Linked DNA regions of Homo sapiens: regions 1, 2, 3 and 5 are each linked to region 4. The links come from fine-mapping of genetic effects on gene expression. A gene starts in region 4. Each other region holds a variant in brackets. All regions are shown on one strand. Distances are from middle to middle.

Region 1 (4,121 bases), 160 kb before region 4:
TTGAAATGAAATAATTAAGTCCTTGGGCTTTGTTCTTTTCAAAATTATATCAGCTCTTGTAATTCCTTTGATTTTTTTCCATAAAAATTTTAGAATTAACTTGTCAATTTCTCCAAAAAGAATATTGCTGGGATTTTTTGTAAGATTGCATGGAATCTATGGAAGGTTAATTTATGATTAACGTTAATAAATTAATATAACAATGTTGAGACTTGCAAATCTTGAATAACGAACATCTTGTATTTGTTTAGGCCTTTGATTTCTTTCACTGGCGTTTTGGAGTTTTCAATATGCAGATTGTACACTTGTATAAACATATTTTGTTAAATTTATACCAAAGTGTTTCTTATTTTTCTTATTATTATAATAGCACTGCTTGAAAATTTTCAGTTTCTACTGGTAGTATATAGAATGTAGACAGAAATGTGATTTTGTGTATTAAATATACATTGGCCTTCTAACTATTGACCTTGCTAAATTTACTAATTAGTTCTAATACCTTTCTTGTAGATTCTTACAATTTTCTAAACATACAATCATGTCATCTGCAAAGAGAAACATTTTTACTTCTTCTAATCTGTAGGTCTTTTTTTTTTTTTTGAATTTCTTCTCTTATTGCACTTAGAATTTTCAGTGTGTCTAAAAAGAGTGGTAAGAATGGACTTCTCGTCCTTATTCCTGATCTTAGGGGCAAAACATTTGGTCTTTTAGCATTAACTCTGATGTTAGCAGCCCATTTTGTAGATACTCTCCCTCAGTTTGAGGAAGTTCCTTTCTATTATTAATTGATGAGAATTTTTGTTATGGTTGGATTTCAAATTTTGTCCAGTGATTTTCTGCATCTTTTGAGATGAGCAATGTTTTTCTTCTTTTGTCTACTGATGTGGTGAACTAATTTAATTAACTTTTGAATGCTTAACTATCTTTTCACGATGAAATAAACCTCACTTGGTAATGATATATTATCTTTTTTTTACATATTGTTGGATTGTAAGTGCTAGCATTCGATTGAATATTTTCATATCTATGCTGTGAGGGATATTTCGTCTGTAGTTTTCTTATAATGTCTTTGTTTTTAATATCAGGTAATGCTGAGTTTATAAAATGAGCTGGGTGTCATTCCCTCCCGTTTTATCTTATGGAAAAAATTGTGTATAATTATATTACATTTTTCTGAAATGTTAGGAAAAACGTGTTAGTACAGCCAGCTGGACTTGAAGATTTTTCTTTGAGAATTTTAAGCCACAAATTCAATTTCTTTAATGTATAGTAGCTTATTCAAGATACCTATTTCTTCTTCAGTGAGTATTGCTGCTGTGTCATGTATGACACATGTATGATTTATTTTTATGTTTATAAATGACTAGGAAGGATCTGAAATAATTTTCTAACCTTCATTCCTAAAATTGATAATTTGTGTCTTCTCTCTTTTTATCTTGGCCGATATGGCTAGTCACTATTAATTTATGGACTTTTTTCAAAGGAACAACTCTTTGGTCATTGGTTCTCTCTTTGCTTCTCTTTCATTGTTTTTCCAGTTCATTGTTTTCTTCTGGTATTTTTATTTCCTGGAAATTTTGGGTGGATTCCTGAGAATCAATATTGTAGGCCATTGTTTTTTTTTAAAACACTGTGACCTATAATAACAAATACTTTTTATATCATATTTCATTATGTGCTCAAAAAGCCCATTTACATATAATTAAAACGAACTTTCACA[A/G]AACAACACTCAGCCATATTACATGTGAGAAAGTATTTTTTTCAATTCAATTCTATTTTGTTCCAGCCTGGATGAATTCTCTTTTGTTAACAAGAAGCTGATCACAACCTGCTAAACTACCTTCACAGACTACTGATTGTTAGTGACCTGCGGTTTGAAAAGCATTGCCGAACATGATTCTGCTAACAAATCATGTATACAATGCTTGTGAGACCCTCTACTATTTCTTTTTTCCTTTTATTGGTACATAGTGTTTTGCACATTTATGGGGGTACATGTGAGCATTTTTAATGTGCATCGAACATGTAACATCAAGTCAGGGTATTTGGGGTATCCATCATACTGAGTATTTGTCATTTCTGCATGTTGGTAACATTTCAAGTTCTTTCTTCTAGCTACTTTGAAATATACAATATGTTGTTGTTAACTATAGTCATCCTAGTCTGCTATTGAAAATTAGAACTTATTTCCTCTATCTAACTGTAAGTTTGTGCTTCTTCATGAACCTCTTTTCCTTTCTCCCTCCGCCCACTCTCACACCCTCCCAAACTCTGGTGTCATATCTACCCGTCTATTGTCTACCTCCAGGAGATCAAGGTTTTTAGTTCCTACATATGAGTAAGAACATGTGGTATTTGTCTTTCTGTGCCTGGATTATTTCACCTGACATAATGACCTTTATTTCCATCCATGTTGCTGCAGATGACATGATTTCATTCTTTCTTATGAACAAATAGTATTTCATTGTGTATATATACCACATTTTCTTTATCCATTCACCCACTGATGAACACTTAGATTGAGTCCATACCTTTGCGATTGTTAAGTATTCCCTTTTCTATACATCCTTGCCAGCATCTGTTTTTATTTATTTATTTTTTGTCTTTTTAGGAATAACCATTCTCATTAGGATGAGATAATATCTCATCATGGTTTTGATTTGCATTTCTCTGATGATTAGAGATGTTGAGCATTTTTTAATATGCTTGTTGGCTTTTGTGTGTCTTCCTTTGAAAATTGTCTATTCATGTCATTTGCCCACTTTTTAATTGAATTATTTGTTTTTTTTTATTGTTGAGTTGTTTGTATTCCTTGCATATTCTGGATATTAGTCCCTGGTTGGATGAATAGTTTGCAACTACTTCCTCCCATTCAACAGTTTGTCTCTTCACTTTGTTAATTGTTTCTTTCACTGTGCAAAAACTTTTTTAGTTTACTATAGTGCTATTTGTCTATTTTTGTGTTAGTTTTCTCTGCTTTTGAGGTCTCAGCCATAAAATCTTTGCCTAAACAAATATCCTGGAGTATTTTCCCTTTGTTTTCTTCTAGTGGTTTTATAGTTTAAGGTCTTACTTTTAAGTTTTTGATCCATTTTGAATTGATTTTTATATAAGGTGGAAGATAAGGGTCCAGTTTCATTCTTCTGCATGTGAATATCCCATTTTTTTCAGCACTATTTATTAAAGAAGGTATCCTTTCCTCAGTGTATGTTCTGGGCAACTTTGTTGAAAGTCTGTTGGCTGTAAATATGTAGAGTTATTTTTGGGTTTTCTATTCTCTTCCATTAGTTTCTGTGTCTATTTCTATGTCAATACCATGCTTTTTGGTTACTATAACCTTGTACTATATTTTGAAGTCAAGTAGTGTGATGCCTTCTGCTTTGTACTTTTTGCTCAGGATTGTTTTGGTTATACTGGCTCTTTTTTTATTCCATATGAATTTTAGAATTTTGTTTTCTATTTCTGTAAAAAATGACATTGGTATTTTAATAAGGATTTTATTGAATCTGGATATTTCATTGGTCATTTTGACAATATTGATTCTTCTGATCCATGAGCATGGGATGTCTATTTGTTTATGTCTTCTTTAATTCATTTTAACAGTGTTTTACAGTTTTTCTTGTAGAGATCTTTTACCTGCTTGGTTAAATTTATTCCTAGGTATTTTTTTTTTGGTAGCAATTGTAAATGGGATTGTCTTCTTGATTTCTCTTTTGGCTGTTTTATTATTGGTTATAGAAATGCTACTGATTTTTATATGTTGATTTTATATTTTTCAACTTTATTGAATTTGCTTATCATTTTTAGGTGGAATCTTTTTTTTCTAAATATAAGATTATTTCATGTGCAAAGAGAGACAATTTGACTCCCTCTTTTCCAATTTGAATGCCTTTTATTTTTTACTCTTGTCTGATTTCTCTGTCTAGGGGAAATAGTATTTTTAGCATTATGTTGAATAGGAGTAGTGAAAGTGAGCATCCTTGTCTTGTTCTAGTTCTTAGAGAAAAGGTTTTCAACTTTTTGCCATTCAGTATGATGTTGGCTGTGGGTTTGTCATATATATGGCCTTTATTATTTTGAGGTATGTTCCCTCTATACCTAGTTTGTTGAGAGTTTTTATA
Region 2 (4,121 bases), 150 kb before region 4:
GGTCTTGAGAAGTATGTGCTGGTGTTGGTGGTGGCTGCAATGGGCTGCATGGGCCAGTCTTTAGGCTTGCAGGCGGCACATGCAGATAAGTGCCAGTTGTGGTATTCTCATTTTGGTGAGTAGGCCCCTGGGAGGAGTGTTTAGGTTCCGATGGTGGTGAACCAAGTTGGGAAATCCCCTGGCCCCTAGACTATGTGCTCTTTTATGGAGAGGGGGTAAATCTGGGTCAGATGAGCTTGTCCTCAGGCCTCCAGTGGCGTGTGGAGGAGCCACCCAAGGTACAAAGGGGTTGGGTGATCCGCAGGCCACTGGTGGAATGCTTGCACTGGGGGAAGAAACAACTGTGCTGTTATCCTGCCACTGGGGAGGGTAGTTCTGCCTTCATTGGCAACAGCATAGGCCAATGGATGGGGAATGTGTGCACCACTTGCACCTCAGTCCCAGCAGCACTGCACCTTAGCCCCAGGTGTGATAGCCCAGGGTCACTCACGCCTAGATCTTGGGGACACAGCCTGCACTTCTCTTGAGCCCCAGCTCCAGCACTGCTGGACTCCAAGACAGCATATAGTTTGTTGGGCCTCTACTATTTCTTGATCCATGACATTGATAAAAATTAAAAACAACTTGGATAGGACACATGGTCTAGACTCACAGCATATTCCAAGAAATCTCTCACCAGGTTCAAACAAAGTCATTAATTTCTTCATTAATTTAACAAATATTGAGCCATTACCTATGTGCCAGGTATCAATTTAGATACTGGGGATATAGCAGTGAACAGCACAGATAAAGTATTTGATCTATGAAGTTTCTATTTTAGTGGGTAAAAACAGTCAATAAAATATACAAATAAATATGTCAAGTGACGATAAGTGCCATGAAGAGAAAGAAAGTAGGATAAAGAGAGACATGGGAATGCCACACTATTTTATTTGGGATGGTTAATGACTATTTCTATGAAAAGGTAATATTTGAGCAAAGAACTGAAGGAGTGAGATATATATGGGGAAACCATATTCCAAACAGAGGGTACAGCAAGTGCAAAGTCACTGAGGAAGTGTCATGCTTGAAATTTGAAAGGATTGCAGCTGGGGAGGGGAATGGTAGAGATGAGTTTAGAGAAGCAGCAGTGTCCAGGCCGCAGATTCTTCTACAAGCCATGGAAATGACAGATTTTACACTGAGAGAGAAGGGAGCTATTGGAAGTGTTCTGCAGCTGAGTTATATGACTTGACTTACACTTTAAAAGAATCATTCTGACTGCTGTGGGGAGAACAGACTATGGGGGGTAATATGGTAGCAGGAAGATCAATTAAGAAACTCTTGCAAAAGTCCAAGCAAAGGATGATGGTGACCTGGATTAGGGAGATAACAATACAGAGGTAGAGAAGATATTAAGTTCTCTACGTACTTAGAAGGAAAAGCTGACCAATTTTCCTGATAAATTGTATGGACTGCAAAAGGACAGAAGCCAACCCCTATTCTCTATCGTTCCATTTTATATGTTTTTATAGCTTTTGTTACCATTTATAATTATATTATGTATTTTTTGCCCACTTATTGATTGTCTTCCTTAACCAGTAAAGTAGTATTCCACGATATCAGAAACTTCACCTATCTCGTTCACAACCAAATTTCAGCACCTAGAAGAGTACCTGGTACACAGCAGGTGCTCAATAAGTATTTGTTTGTATGGATGAGTGAAAAGAAAGGGATTTGGCATCTATGATGAGCCCTTAATATATTTCTACCCTTCCCACTCTAATCCTACTTCTGGGAATCTATTTTGAAGAAATTTCACAAAGGCAAAAACTTATCCCAATAGATACTCATCAAAGCAACCTATTCTTACAGTGGAAAATTAAGCACATTCTAACAGTTCAATAGGAGGAGAATTTGGGACACTTCCCAAAAGGTTCAAAGAAGACATTGCCCACTTTTGGGACAGGATGGTCAATGGTTAGAAACAGTCTGCTCTGCCAGGGCTTAAGCACCCAGAGATCAGCAGACTCATGGGCACTGGGTTATGCCAGCTAGATGGCAGGGTTATGTTAATTCATTTCAAACCATGCATTCTAATTACAAACTCTTAAAATCTCAAGGGTTTAATTTAAAAAGTTTTACAGCAGGCTTTGAACCAGTTCCTGGGGCCTCATTATTGTCAGCTCTCCTCACCACAGGCCTATGTGGCGGGAGTTTAGGGAAAAGAGAGAGAAGACTATGGGGAAAAGAGGGGAAAGAGAAGCGTATATGATTGAAAAGCCCAAAGGAAAGTGGGAGTAGAAGTTTAATTAAAACACAGCTGGGCAGTTTGCATCAGTGAGTTTAACGCTGAGAAGGAAAACAGGCTTAGGAAATGCCATATGAATGTGGGTATGCTTGCCCCCCAAAGAGCTAACATTTACAATAGACATTGCAGTACAGCCATGGCAGGTACTCAGCACCTTTCTGTGTGCAAGCATGAACATATTGAAATGTACAATTTTACTAATTAAAGACCCCCTTTAGTCTACTGACAGAGTATAAAAAATAAATAAAATATAACCCCATTTTTTT[TC/C]TCCCCAAAGATAGAATTATTTTTTAACTTGCACTGCAAAATTCTGAATTCTAGCACTCAATCTTAAGTATATTTACTCTCAAAGCAAAGAATTTCTGAACTGAAAGGTACTTAAGGCATTTTGACTCTTCATTTTTCAAATAAGGAAAACAATGCTCAGAGAGTATCTCAACATAGTAAAGAAAGGAAGAAGATGCTGTATCTTTCCTGATCTCTACTTAAGCTCTCTCTTCACTGTTCTGCACTATTTTCTAGTTATTTCTGGGATTATTTATTCAACAAACACTGAGCCTTCTAGTGCAATGCACTGGTTAACCATGGGGAAAAGTGCACACAAAGATGAAACAGGAATAAATTCTATCTTCTGGAGTTGTATACTCTGGATGTAAATGTTCTTATATTCATTCTTTCTCTCTTTTCCTCTGCCTGCTTCTAAAAAGAACTTGAGGTGGTCAAGCTTTAGACCATTATATATTTAAGATGCTGAAAAGATTTCATTCAACAATGCTTTTTGCATCAATAATAATTTTATTCACTATTAGTCAGACATATTTTTTCTTCACTTTAAGTCCTCTCCTTGACTTTCTGTAAGTACCTTAGAAATTTCCAAGTAAGTGTCATTTGCTTTGCCTATTGAAGTCAAATTATGTTATGTGTTTGAATTACAACTTGAAGGGGGCTATGCTTTTAGTAGCTCATTTTTTGTGTTCAAATGCAAAAATTATTGAAATTATTCTATGCTTGTATTCTATGATTGCTTATTCTGAGTTCCATTTGCCTCTTCTTAAGAAATCATTGTTGTCTAGAGAATGAAAAAAGACAGGTCATATTAGTAAATCAATATTTATATTCAAGAAAAAGATCTAAAATATTTTTTAAAAGAACTATTCTCATATAAAAATAAATCATCTCTGATAATATGTTTTCTAAAAGAGTTTGGCTTTTATGTTTATGCAAGACTGACTTCCTGCCAAGCCTTCACTCCAAGATATGTCACAGTGGAGGGTCCCAGTGTTTCCCCTTGTCACTTTATAGGATTAGTTCGGTCCACTGTCATTCGGCTAAAATGCCTTGTATCTCTGGTTAGTGTGAAGTCCATAACTAAGCCCAAGTATTGGTTCTTTAAACTTTATAAAGTGGCTCTTCCATTCACTCTCAGGTTGTACCATTCATCATACCTTCAATGGCTGGGGAAAACGTACTGTCTCTTTATGGTCTTTTTAATGCTCTGCAAAGTGATTTGTTAAAGGAAGGGTTTTGAAAGAAGTATTGTCCTTTTGGCTTAAAGTTTATAGTTTTTCAGCACTTACTATAAAAGGAACACATCCACAACCACATTTTTTTTTCTACAGGTAAAGGAACGGAATGTTTAGTCTGAAAGCTTAGAAGGAAGATGAGGTGCAGCATGAAGACAAAAGCAAAATCGGAAAGCTAAAACAGTAAGAAAGGAGACAAAAATCCGAGATGAATTGTAGCAAAGTGATATATTTATCATTATCCCAGAATATATAAATTTCTTTTTTTACCAGAATATTAAGTCTTTTGAAATGTTCCAAAAACATGA
Region 3 (4,121 bases), 120 kb after region 4:
TACACTCACTACCCTCTTTTGACCTCCCTCTGGCTCCAGTGTGCCCATGTCCACCCTACCTGGCCAGAAGATGGCTTCCTGAACTGGACTCTATCGTCACCTTTGTAGAGGGCTTAACCCAGTAGCCCTCTACAGGCTACAGTCAGCTTCCAGGATGTGAGGGAGCACTGAAACTTTCTGCATTTATTGCAAAGCTTGAGGAATAGTTTCAATTAACAGAGCTTCTAAAAAGGTGCTTCCAAAATATCTCTCACAACCTACCAAGGATGGCATAAAACACTTCAGGTTTGAGGCAGAGAACTGTTGGAACAGTTTGTATTTTGCGAAGGAGAAAAATATGAAAATGTTCAGTTTACAAGGCACAGCAGGATAGAAGTAAATGTGTGAGGAAATAAAAATTAATCTCTGTTTCTAGCATTGGCTTGACTGGCACCTTTCTTCTAAACTCTTCAAAGCATTTCAACATAAAAATATCTACTATTCACTGAGGGCTTATCATGGACTGGACACTGTGCTAAGTGCTCTGCATGGATCGTCTCATTTGATCTTCACAAAAGCCCGTGAGTCAGGTATTACCATCCTCCCCATTTTACATCAGAAGAAACTGAGGCAGTAGAGACTTTAACTTGCCCATTGCTGCAAAGGCACAAGGTAGGAACAAAGATTCAGACTTGCACATTCAGGGTCTAGAACCTACACCTTTAGCCACCAGGCTATGCAGCCTCCAGAGGGGTCTTGGTGGGCTAAGTAGATGAAACAACCTCCGCTACACAGAGTGCATGTGATACTGAAAAAGATTTGAAAATCTTGCGAAAATATCACAGCCACGATGGAATTCCCAGGTCCCAGACCACAAGATCTCAAATCTATTGTAGAAACTAAGGGGAACTGGTTTACTGAACAAGCTGAATTCACAAACTGTAATCAGAAAAGTGCTGTGTTCTTTCTCATCTCCATACACTCAAACCTGCACTATGGGGCTAGTCCTTCTCTGTGCCTTGGACTAAATCCATAACAAGTAGCATGAATGTTCTAGTTCCTCCCAAAAAATCAAAACGTTTTCATTCGCCTTAAGTCCCCAAAACATTCTCACTGCAGTCTTAAAAATATCCAGCCCAAGGTAAAATCAAACCTCTAAACCTTGTTTTAAGATAAAGCTTCTTCTGACTCCCAACCCCAAAAGCTTAAAGTGGGGAATGTTGGCTTCTTCTCTCTTCTCTAACCTTCCTAGCTTCCTCACCTCCCTCCCCTGCCTGGCCCCCACTAGACTGCTTCTGACTCCTCATGGGTTAGAGCAGGGGACAGAGACAGGTAAGAAGCAGAAATGTTCTTGTTGATGTGCAGTGGGGGAAGCACTTGGAGAGCAAGAAGGAGATCAGACTCAAGAAGACAAGAGAAAGTATAGAGAACAAAGCTGGAGGATCTTTAATCATGAATTAACCCCAGGGCAACCTGGGATGGGAGTAAGAAAAGAGATTAGAATCTGTGTTAGTTTCCCATTGCTGCTGTAACAAATTGCCACATATTTGTGGCTTAAAACAACGTAAATGTATTCTCTCACAGTTCTGGAAGTCGGAAGTTCAAAATCAATTTTACTGGGCTAGGGTCAAGGCATTGGCTGGGCTTGTTCCTTCTGGCAGCTTCAGAGGAAAACTCATTTCCTTGCCTTTTTTCAGCTTTTAGTGGCTGCTGGCATTCCTGGGCTTGTGACCTCTTCCTCAGGTCATTCTAACTTCTTGCTTCTACCTTCACATCTCTTGGCCTTTGGCGTGGGCTGCCAGTCATCCTGTTCCATTCAGCTCTTCATGGATACAGCCGACTGGGGCTGTGGATGTATGTGGGCAGGGGAGGGAATGAAGAAATGCAGCCAGGATAGGGCACACC[G/A]CAGCACCAAGCAGCTACAACATAATCAGATTGTGAGCATTAAACAGAAGGCATGTGGAGTAGTTTTCTAAAGCAGCCTGTTCGATTCTTTGTAAAAGGCCCTTCACGGTTTCCCCAGCTTGATATGGGCTTGGCCCTAAAGAGAAGACGGAGGCAGAAAGATCTGATGCTGGTGTTCCTGCCTCTCTCTCTAAAGACCCTTGTGATTATATTGGGCAAACCTGGCTAACCCAGGATAATCTCCTCATCTCAAAATACTTAATCACCCCTGCAAAAATCCCTTTTGCCATAGAAGATAACAGTCATAGACTTGGGAGATTAGGACAGAAGGTGGACACATGTGCAGGGCCATTATTCAGCCTATAACCAGGTCCAAACTGTTAGGGAAAAATTGAGGCAAATGCTTAGGCCTGGAGGGGAGCCAGAAGGCTCTAGAAATAAAAACGAGTCAGCTTCCTTAACTCAAGGCCAGGAAGCAAACTCTATCTAAAGAGCAGGAAACACCCAGCCAGAACTCTTTTCTCTGCTCCTTTTGAGTATTAAGACACGTCATTTTGCTTAATTCAGTCATGGAAAAGATCTTGACAGCAGAAAGACACTGCTTCTGCTTTTGCAAACCTCTGTGTGGAATTCCACAATGCCAGAGCATAAAGAGACCTTTGCCTTCTTCCATTGCAACCACTTTTTTTTTTTTTTTTTTTGAGATGGAGTCTCACTCTGTCTCCCAGGCTGGAGTGCAGTGGCATGATCTCAGGTCGCTGCAACCTCCACCTCCCGGCTTCAAGTGATTCTCCTGCCTCAGCCTCCCAAGTAGCTGGGACTACAGCAGGTTCGTACCTCCATACCCAGCTAATTTTTTGTATTTTTAATAGAGACGGGGTTTCACCATGTTAGCCAGGATGGTCTCCATCTCCTGACCTCGTGATCTGCCTACCTTGGCCTCCCAAAGTGCTGGGATTACAGGCGTGAGCCACTGCACCTGGCCGTTTGCAACCAGTTTCTTTTAGAAAGGAATGTGAGAGGCAGCATGGTCTAGTGAAAAATGCCCAATATTTGAAATTTGACATCGGGTATATCCCAATTTTCATCTTGGCTGGCTCTTTACCAGTTGTCTACCTCTGGCCCAGTCTGTGTCCACCTTGTAGAACTGTTCTGAATGTGACAGAATAACATTTTCTTTTCCTCACTCCTGAGACATGACACAGATTCTGTCCCATCTTTACAGCCGAGCCCGTATCAGGCTGGGGAAACTGAGAAGGGCCTTTCAAAAAGAATCAAATAGGCTGCTTTAGAAAAATATTCCACATCGGCCAGGTGCGGTGGCTCAAGCCTGTAATCCTAGCACTTTGGGAGGCCAAGGTGGGCCGATCACCTGAGGTCAGGAGTTCAAGACCAGCATGGCCAACATGATGAAACCCCATCTCTACCAAATATACACAAATTATCCAGGCATGGTGGCGGGTGCCTGTAGTCCCAACTACTTGGAGGCTGAGGCAGGAAAATCACTTGAACCCAGGAGGTGGAGGCTGCAGTGAGCCAATATTGTATCACTGCATTCCAGCCTGGTTGACAGAGTAAGACTCTATCTCAAAAAAATAAAATAAAATAAAATAAAATAAAATAAAATAAAATAAGAAAAAGAAAAGGAAAATATTCCATGTGCCTTGGGTTTAGTGCTCAGAATCTGATTACCTTGTAGCTGCTTGGTGCTGCGGTGTGCCCTGTCCTGGCTGCGTTTCAGCAGGACGAGCTGAATAATGAAGAGAAGAGATGCCCAATTCTCTGTCCAAGATGGACACCATATGGAGAATTGCAGGCACAAGGATAACACTTAGAGAAAAACAGATCAATCTATATTTTCTTTATTAATTCCAAATTTCTGAAGCCCTGAGGCACCTACATCAAAACCCACAACCTTTGGATTTGAACACTGAGATTTTGATAAACTAGGGAACTCAGGATATGACATAAGGGAAATCTTCCATTTCATGAGAGGGCAAAACCTTCTCTTTCTGACACAGACTTGGGAATAAATAAAGGAAGAGAAAGGTAGAAGAAGCAGACATTCAAATATATGTGTTCTAAACAGCCCTCCAAGGGACTGAGGCCCTGAGGATGAAGAGATAGGATAAGAAGAGGCCAAAGGTGGAAATACTTTCCTGATCCCCATTTAGAGCCCTACCAAGAGACTGTTGTTCAGGGTGACCTAGAAACTCCAAAGATGTTGAGGGACGATA
Region 4 (4,121 bases):
GAGAACAAGACTCTGCCTCAAAAAATAAAATAAAATAAAATAAAATAAAATAAAGTAAAGTAAAATAAAATAAAGCAAAGAATATGTCTAAAAATGCCTTGTCTGGGGTTGGTACACATACAGTGAGCACGGAATAAACGAGAGTGTCTGTCCCTTTGCTGTCCTTTTAAGTTTCCCGGGTTGCCGAGGGCAGCGTTGCAGATTGCAGTAGTGCAGTAGTCCCCTGGCTGCCTGTGCCGCCTCCCTTTGCGCGTCTCTGACGAGCCCACTGTAAGGGACTTTCCTCTGTGCTCTGATGGCTTCTCACCTCTGCAGGTGCACAAGGCAGCCCTGAAGTAGCGGTGAGTTGACACTAGGGTGAGCTTCGCCCAGTAGAGCGGGGATTCACAGAAGAGTGCCCCGTGGCTTTCCCGAGGTGCCCATCAGAGGTCCTCGGAAGGCACCCGGAGGAAAGGAGCGCCATGTGGAAGACCCTCAGCCACATGCTCCTCCTGGCTTTCCCTTTTTTCCTTGTCTCATTCTCTCCACTTCCTCATTTGGGCTTTTTGGTCTCACTTACCCCCAAAAAATTACCTGCAGGTAAGCCCTTGCATAAGGCTTTGCTTTAGGGCAGAATCTAAACTAAAACACACACCAAGCCCTTGAGCCACAAGTGCCTCCTTCCTCTCTCCCTCCTGCTTCTATATGCAGTCAACCACCTCATTTGGTTAATCTCTCACCATCTCTCTCAAACATCAGTCCCTTTAGTTGGCAATCATTCCAGACTAAACCAATATGGTTTTAGTCCCCAGGATGTATTCTCATCCACAATCGTCCTCTACAAGAACTCTAACAAGAACCGTTACATTTCGTCCACTCTCTCTAAGGTGAAACTTGCAGAGCGCCTCAGCCTGGCTTCTCCAGGGTCTGGCATGCCAGTGATTACTGGACGTTTTTCCTGCTACTTTCTTCCACTAAATCTCTCCAAGCTCGGAAAGGTTGGCATTCTGAGCATGCCCTGCATTTCCTGTAGAATTCCATCTCTTCCCCTCTTCCCTTCCTATCCGCCACCTTTTTCTTAATACTGCTCGCGGGAAAGAAATTCACAAAAGAGAGCCAATACTCGGCAGAGCATTGAGAATGCGGGTACCTGATCTCAGCCTCAGAAGTTACCAGTGGAAAAAAGCAGCCGAGAGAGATCCGGAAGCCTGAGCTCAAGATCGTGCTAGCTACCTCCCAGAAGACAAGCGACGTCTTTCACTTCTGGGGCAGTACCAGTTTGACAGGATAAACAAAAACAGACAAAAAACCTCAGATGAGTAATATGTCCCGGAAAGCTGACCCAGCATTCCGCAACGAAATGTGCCCTCGTGCACGCACACACCATGCACATCTTTGTCAAATTCGTAATTTACAAGTTCAAATAGGAGGGAGAAACGTGTTTTGAGACAAACTGCAAATAGCACCAGACTAACAAAACGAAATGAAACCAAAGACCTAGACCTAAGAAGGGAGGGACACCCCCTGACGCCGGGTATGGTCTGGGGCCTCCAGCACTTTGCGGCGACCCCCAGTGCCCTAGGTGCTCAGCTACCGCCCCCACCCCAGGACCCGCTGGGATTGGAAAACTCACCCCTGAGCAGTGCGGATACCTAGGGACTGACGGACAGGCTCTGCAGTGGCGCGCGGGGGACGGGTCGGAGGCGAGGCGGGGCGGGGCGGTCCCGGAGGCGGGGCGGTCTCGGAGGTAGGGGCCGTCCTGGAGGCGGGGCCGTCTCGGAGGCGGGACTGTCCTGGGGACTGAGCTGTCTCGGAGGTGGAGTCCTGCGGTCCCGGAGGCGGGTTGTACCGTAGGCGGGGCTCTCTCGTAGGCTGGCCGGTCCTGGAGGAGAGGCTGTTCTGGCGGCGGGGCTGTCTTGGAGGCTAGGAGGTCTCGGAAACTGGGCTGTCCCGGAGGCGGGGCACAGGCTGGGGTGAGGCGGAGCCGACCCTGAGGCGGGCCCGGGGCGCGGCTACCGCTCCCTGAGCCACGCCCGTGGTCTCCCGTTCCATCGGTGGACCCCACCTCGGGCCGTGCTGCGGGCTCTCGGGGCGCCTACCAGGTGAGCGACCCCGCCTTCCCGGAGGGATGCTTTGGCCTGCATGGGGCCCCAAACCGGCTCCCTCAGGGTCTCTGCGGGTTCTTGGATGCGAGAGGGGACCCAGCCAGTTTGCTGTCGCACTTGATAAGAAAAGCAAACCCTAAGTCTCCAATAAACCATATTTGGGGCGAATAGTTCCCTAACAACAACGTATGCCACGGGGGAGGCCCCGCGTGGAATCAGGCTCCCTTCCCTCCGATCTTGGGGTGGGCTCAGCAGAGCCGGTAGCCGCCGCGTCGCCTCCGTCGCTCGAGCCTCTGCGTGGAGGGCTGCCCCCTAGTGGTCAGCTGCGGGCCATGCACTTCGAGCCCGGTGGATGCTTATGGCCATGGTGCGGGGTGCTCAACTAGGGCATTTTTCTCTCAAAGTATCCACAGAAATGCTGCCCAGCAAGTTATATTCTTGCTGGGAGGGAAACGTGCCTGTGGCATCACTAACACAGATTCGTCCGTGCATGGCTGGAGAAATTAAGCTAAAGCTATAGAGTGGCTGGTGCTCGAATTTCTACGCAAGAGAGGTCAGAAGGTGAAAATCAAGGTGGAAGGGTGTGGTCAGGAGGAGGATTTGGTGTAGTCTGGAGTTTAGGAACGTCTTACCTAGGAAAGTGATGACTGTGCTAGAATGAGGGGAAAAAAGTAGTCTGTCTGCATTTTGCCCACCATTGAGTCCTCATTGCCTATTTTCATTTCTGACATAGAATAGGCTTTAGTTTCTTAATAAATAACTAAATATATGCTAAATAAATAAGGATATAGTGAACGTCCAAAAATATCTGTCGAATTAGTGAGTTAATAACTGACTCTTCGGAGGACTAGTGGAAATCTGATTGGCAGAGGACCAAATACATTCAGGTTTCAGAAATAAAGAGCAAGGAGAAACTTACACAGAAAAGAAATTGTGGATAAGACTTGCCAGAATTTGGAATAATTCCGGCTAGAAATCCAACGTGCGGTGAAGTACGTTGAGTTCTTAGGCTTCATATCAGGGAACAACTGACCTTTGGGAGCTGAAGTGGGAGATGGACATCAAAGAAAGTGGGTCAGTAAAGTTCCACGTTAAAAGCTGATTCAGGCCCGGGTGCGGGGGCTCACTCCTGTAATCCCAGCACTTTGGGAGGCCGAGGTGGGTGGATCACCTGAGGTCAGGAGTTCAAGACCAGCCTGGCCAACATGGAGAAACCCCGTCTCTCCTAAAAATACAAAAATTAGCCGGGCGTGGTGGCACAGGCCTGTAATCCCAGCTACTCGGGAGGCTGAGGCAGGAGAATTGCTTGAACCCGGGAGGCGGATGTTGCAGTGAGCAGAGATCATGCCACTGCCCTCCAGCCTGGGCGACAGAGCGAGACTCCGTCTCAACAACAACAACAAAAAGCTGGCTCGGTATCTTTTGTGTGTTTGTACTCTTAGGTTTTAACCAGTCTCCACCTACATCAACCTCACTCCTCATGGTAAAGTACTACTATTGTTCTAAATTAACTCCTGAGAGTATTTTGGTGTTGCTCTAATAGAAGAAAGGGGCTTTAAACAAAGGTGATTTTTCCAGGGTCAGAGAGCAGAAAGTACCTGCCATTTGGGAGCAGGAGCTGCCTGAGGAATGGAACCTAACAACATAGGAACGGCATAACGGTTCCTAAAAAAAAAAAAAAAAAAAAAAAAGAAGAAAAAAAAGATTAAAGATGGTAACCAGCATTTACGTTCTGACTAAAGGGTGTCCGAGAGAGAATACAGTCATGGGTTCTTAGTTTCTGTTTTTGGTTAGGCGAGTAAAACCCCTTCCTCATCCCTCTTTTCCCCTTTCACTAGAGACAGAAACTAAAAACCGTGAGTTCAGGCAGCTAGAAACCTAAAATAAAAGAAAACGGAACAACAACAACAACAACGAAAATAAGGTGGGTTGGATAAGCTTCGAAATGGTTACTGCTTATGCAAAGGTGCAGGCCCCAGATCTTTCCTTTTACTTGGGAGAAAACAGACGCCATTCAGTGAAAGTCAACATATCCTT
Region 5 (4,121 bases), 110 kb before region 4:
TAGAAAATGTAGGAACTTCTGCAAGCTGAGTACGGGACCAAACTGTCCTCCTACCAGAACTGGGAAGTGCACCAATCTTGCACAAGAAGGCTTTTCAAAATGGAAGCCAGGCATGGTACTAAAGACCTTGCAGCAGGAACAAGTTCATGAAAATAATATCCTGAGAAACGCAATCATGCCATGCCTATAAGGAGATAGCATTGACTGAAAAGTAGCTCTCCTTCTTTGGAAACCTTGACCACATTTAACGTCTTGGCTGACCTGCTGTTCATGTGCTAGCTACGTGCTGCTGAGGCCATATTAGCGGGGGGCACTTTTGATCTTAGATGAATCAGTGTATCAGAGATGTACCTGAGCAATACTCAGAAAGGTCTGGTTTCTATTTCAAAGTTTCTGGTGAAGACAGCCTAGGGGCCTGAAGAAATAACTTATCATAGGAAACTAGGTTAGATTCAAAAGTGGAACAACAATTTGAAGTAGGCTAATAGCATCTTTTTGTTTTCTTCTACAGAAATGGAGACTAACAGATAGATGTACCGGTATGAAGGTGCCATGTATAGGCATCTCAGCTGCCTTGTTTTGGAGCTGGGAGGCCATATAAAATAATTTGAATTTTTTTTAGGGGGGTCTTAATTTGTCATTACTGTTATTGTGGGATATATCCCTGTTCCAGAACCTAATAACATGGCAGAACAGGAAAAATGTTAATTCAAAATGAAAGTATCTACACTGTAGTTAACTTTGGCTGGAAATGTTAGCAGAGGAGAGGAATTGACATCGAAATGTAGTAGAAATAGGGCCCAGGAAATGTCAGATAAATACTTTTTTCACCAAAATACAGAAACTCCTGAAAATAGCTTATACTATTCACTGACCAAGTCCCAAGGAAAAGGAGAAATAAGAATTAATGGAAAATTCACTCTCACAGTGCAGCCTGTTTTCAGAAGCTAAAAATAGGAGAATGGTTCTAATCACACTAAAGCTTCTTTCTGGAATAGTGAAACCATTTTCTTGAATAGGGATAAATAACAGAGGTCTTTTCTTCTTCTTCTTCTTTCTTTTTCTTTTCTTTTTTTTTTTTTTGAGACAGAGTCTCACTCTTTTGCCCAGGTTGGAGTGCAGTGGCACGATCTCAGCTCAGGGCAACCTCCGCCTCCCGGATTCAAGTGATTCTCCTGCCTCAGATTCCCAAGTAGCTGGAATTACAGGCATGTGCCACCACACCCAGTTAATTTTTGTATTTTCAGTAGAGACAGGGTTTTGTCATGTTGGCCAGGCTGGTGTGGAACGCCAGACCTCAGGTGATCCGCCTAAAGACAGCAAACATATACAATAGTTGGAAATCCTCATCTAGTCTTCTCCCATTATCATACACTCTTGTTAGTAATGTGTTAATACAATAGACCCCTACACCAAAACTGATATGTGACAGGCCCTGCCCTTGGGGCTGTAGATACAGCTGTGAATAGGGTAGGTCTAGTCCCTGCCCCTATGAAGCTTCCATGTAGTGGGAAAGAGAGATTTTAAACAAATAATTACAAATGTGATGACTGATATATAAAGGAAGTTACAGGTTTTATCGGAACATGAGGCTTAGAGACACGGCTCGAGGAAATGACCTCTGGGTTAAGAGCTGAAGAAAAAAAGAAAACCTTAAAAATACTGATACCCCAATCCAAAGTAATATAGAGAAGTGCCGTCCCTTCTCCAAGGCCACCACTAGCTCATAAAATGCCTCTGTGTGAATTAGAGAATGTCGCTCTTGCTATCCTGGCTGGCTCAGTGGTGGCACCCCAGTGGCCCACCTTTGTGTGTGACCCAAATGGCACGTCCACAAAGTGTGTCCCTTCTCCACAGGGCAGGTTTTGTTTTATTAAAAATACAACACTAAACACTATTTTACCAAATTTAGCAAATGGAGAAAATATACATTGAAATTATTCACATTTGAAAAAGATTGCAGACCATTCAAGTTTAATTAAGTCCTGGTTAAAGATACTTAAAGATTTAACAGGAAAAAACAAAAAGTGAAAATGTTTTAATTTCTTATGATAAATATAAATGATAAATGAGTCCTCACTCTGAAAATATAACTCTAAAAAAGGACATTTTTCTAGTTGACTTTTGTTGTTGTTCTACCCAAAAGGAAGCCCAAACATCAGAAACTTCTCTATTCTATTGTGAAGTGGAGGGAAGGACAGGTGGAAGAAAGGAATGACCCAGGAGCACAGAACAATCTGTAGAAATGAGAAGGAGGGCCGCATTCACGCTGAAATGTGTGCATCACAGCTGGAATAAAGAAAGCAAGGGATAGAGGTGGGAGG[C/A]AAATCTGGAAACACTCGCAGAGACCAAATCATGGAAGACTATGTTGGCATGCAAGCTGTGTTGTAAATTTTAATACAGTTTATATCTATCTTGTTTAAAAGGTGTCATGCTTGCATAGGGTAGAAAACATATGTGGTAGAAATACAATATTAAATTACTAACAAAGAGCTTATAAGAAAAACAACAGGAATCTGCCCAAACCCTACTCTGTCTTTATCTCCCCTGTTTCTCTACTCTTTCAATCCTACTCTCCCTAAGAAATTGTTTCAAAACTTAAAAAAAACAAGTCTTCTACTTCTCTTTTTTTCTTTTCTTTTTTCTTTTTTTTGGACGGAGTCTCACTCTATTGTCCAGGCTACAGTGCAGTGGCGCGATCTCAGCTCACTGCAACCTCCAGCGATTCTCCTGCCTCAGCCTCCTGAGTAGCTGGGACTACAGGCATGAGCCACTGCACCCAGCTAATTCTGCATTTTTTTTAGTAGAGATGTGGTTTCACCATATTGGCCAGGCTGGTCTCGAACTCCTGACCTCGTGATCCACCCGCCTCGGCCTGCCAAAGTGTTGGGATTACAGGCGTGAACCACTGCACCTGGCAAAAGTCTTTTACTTCTATAGGTATAAATAGTAGACTTACACCATTACAATTTTACTACAAAATTTCTAAACATAGGCAAAAGTTGAATAAGGATCCTTCAAGAGCCCCTTCACTTAGCTTCAATAACAAACAACATTTGGCACTGTCATTACCAATTCTCCAGTACCAAAGAAAATGTATGCTTCCCAGTACAGCCAGTAAAAGTCTGTCGTATGCACTTCATCACCCTGGCAAGGGCCACCTTCCCATCACTTGAACCAATCCTTGTTGGAAGGTATGGACAATTAGATGAGCATGGATTCTGTGCCCACTCCTGCCAACAGTGTGGGCCAACCCCTTCCAAACCAAGTGGACTCTGTGTTGATGTTGGTGTACCAAAGGAAACCAAAGGAAAACTGATGGGGCTTTTAGCAAAGCAATTGAGTGGCTCATGGGAGGGAAAAGCAAACCAAACCCATGTCCTGTACAGTAGTGATTGGACAAAAATATACAGTCCAAGGGAAATTATAAGCACTAGTTCCAAAGTGAGACAAGCTACATTCAGTATCTATCCTACTGTTCACAGGACATGTTTTTTTCTTTGGGTTGGTTCCAAGACCATCCAATAATTTTCTTCTAATAATTTTTCTAGACTTAGAACTGTGAAATTATGGAAGTAAATGTCTCAGAAATCATGGATCATCCCTATCACTGGCAGCAAATTAGTTTCTGTGAATAGACAAAAGAATCTGAGAATACTGCAGTTACAATTAACTATCAACTTAAAAACAAGAGGCAAAGTCACAGTCTCTCTGTATGAGAGACAAGGAGCTACAGGCTCCAACTTCTACCAGGAAGTGTGTGTGTGTGTAAGAAGCCAGACATTGTCTCTGTTTCTAGGGCAATCTATTAAACCCAGCAGTATCCATCATTTTACCCTAACATCACTGTTGAGAACACCAGTTCTGCAACCTACAGAATGGGAGAAAATTTTTGCAAGCTACCCATCTGACAAGTTCTGATATCCAGAATCTGCAAGGGACTTAAACAAATTTACAACAACAACAAAAACACATCAAAAAGTGGGCAAAGGATATGAACAGACACTTCTCAAAAGAAGACATTTATGTGGCCAATAAACATGAAAAAAAGCTCATCATTACTGGTCATTAGGGAAATGTAAATCAAAACCACAATGGGGTACCATCTCATGCCAGTTAGA

The links. PIP is the estimated chance that this variant, and not a neighbour inherited with it, causes the effect.
Region 1: its variant is fine-mapped to the expression of TCAF2 in whole blood (INTERVAL, PIP 0.93).
Region 2: its variant is fine-mapped to the expression of TCAF2 in whole blood (INTERVAL, PIP 0.95).
Region 3: its variant is fine-mapped to the expression of TCAF2 in whole blood (INTERVAL, PIP 0.96).
Region 5: its variant is fine-mapped to the expression of TCAF2 in whole blood (TOPMed, PIP above 0.99).

Annotation. Positions count from the first base shown.
Region 1 is chr7:143,777,954-143,782,074 of GRCh38, reverse strand. No RefSeq gene overlaps it. Among named protein-coding and RNA genes, the nearest start is that of CTAGE6, 22 kb to the right of the region's middle. The variant A/G (reference allele first, on the strand shown) is at 1,721.
Region 2 is chr7:143,768,973-143,773,093 of GRCh38, reverse strand. No RefSeq gene overlaps it. Among named protein-coding and RNA genes, the nearest start is that of CTAGE6, 13 kb to the right of the region's middle. The variant TC/C (reference allele first, on the strand shown) is at 2,557.
Region 3 is chr7:143,497,679-143,501,799 of GRCh38, reverse strand. The region is part of intron 2 of EPHA1-AS1 (EPHA1 antisense RNA 1); the gene reads right to left. Among named protein-coding and RNA genes, the nearest start is that of TAS2R41, 22 kb to the right of the region's middle. The variant G/A (reference allele first, on the strand shown) is at 1,885.
Region 4 is chr7:143,618,512-143,622,632 of GRCh38, reverse strand. It overlaps TCAF2 (TRPM8 channel associated factor 2), which reads right to left and starts at 1,659. Exons shown (of 8, transcript NM_001363538.2): 1 at 1,613-1,659. It overlaps LOC101928466 (a long non-coding RNA gene), which reads left to right and starts at 3,924. Exons shown (of 4, transcript XR_007060573.1): 1 at 3,924-4,121. RefSeq lists a silencer at 1,595-1,754.
Region 5 is chr7:143,730,299-143,734,419 of GRCh38, reverse strand. TCAF2 (TRPM8 channel associated factor 2) reads right to left here. Exons shown (of 8, transcript NM_001363538.2): 8 at 4,010-4,121. Among named protein-coding and RNA genes, the nearest start is that of CTAGE6, 25 kb to the left of the region's middle. The variant C/A (reference allele first, on the strand shown) is at 2,325.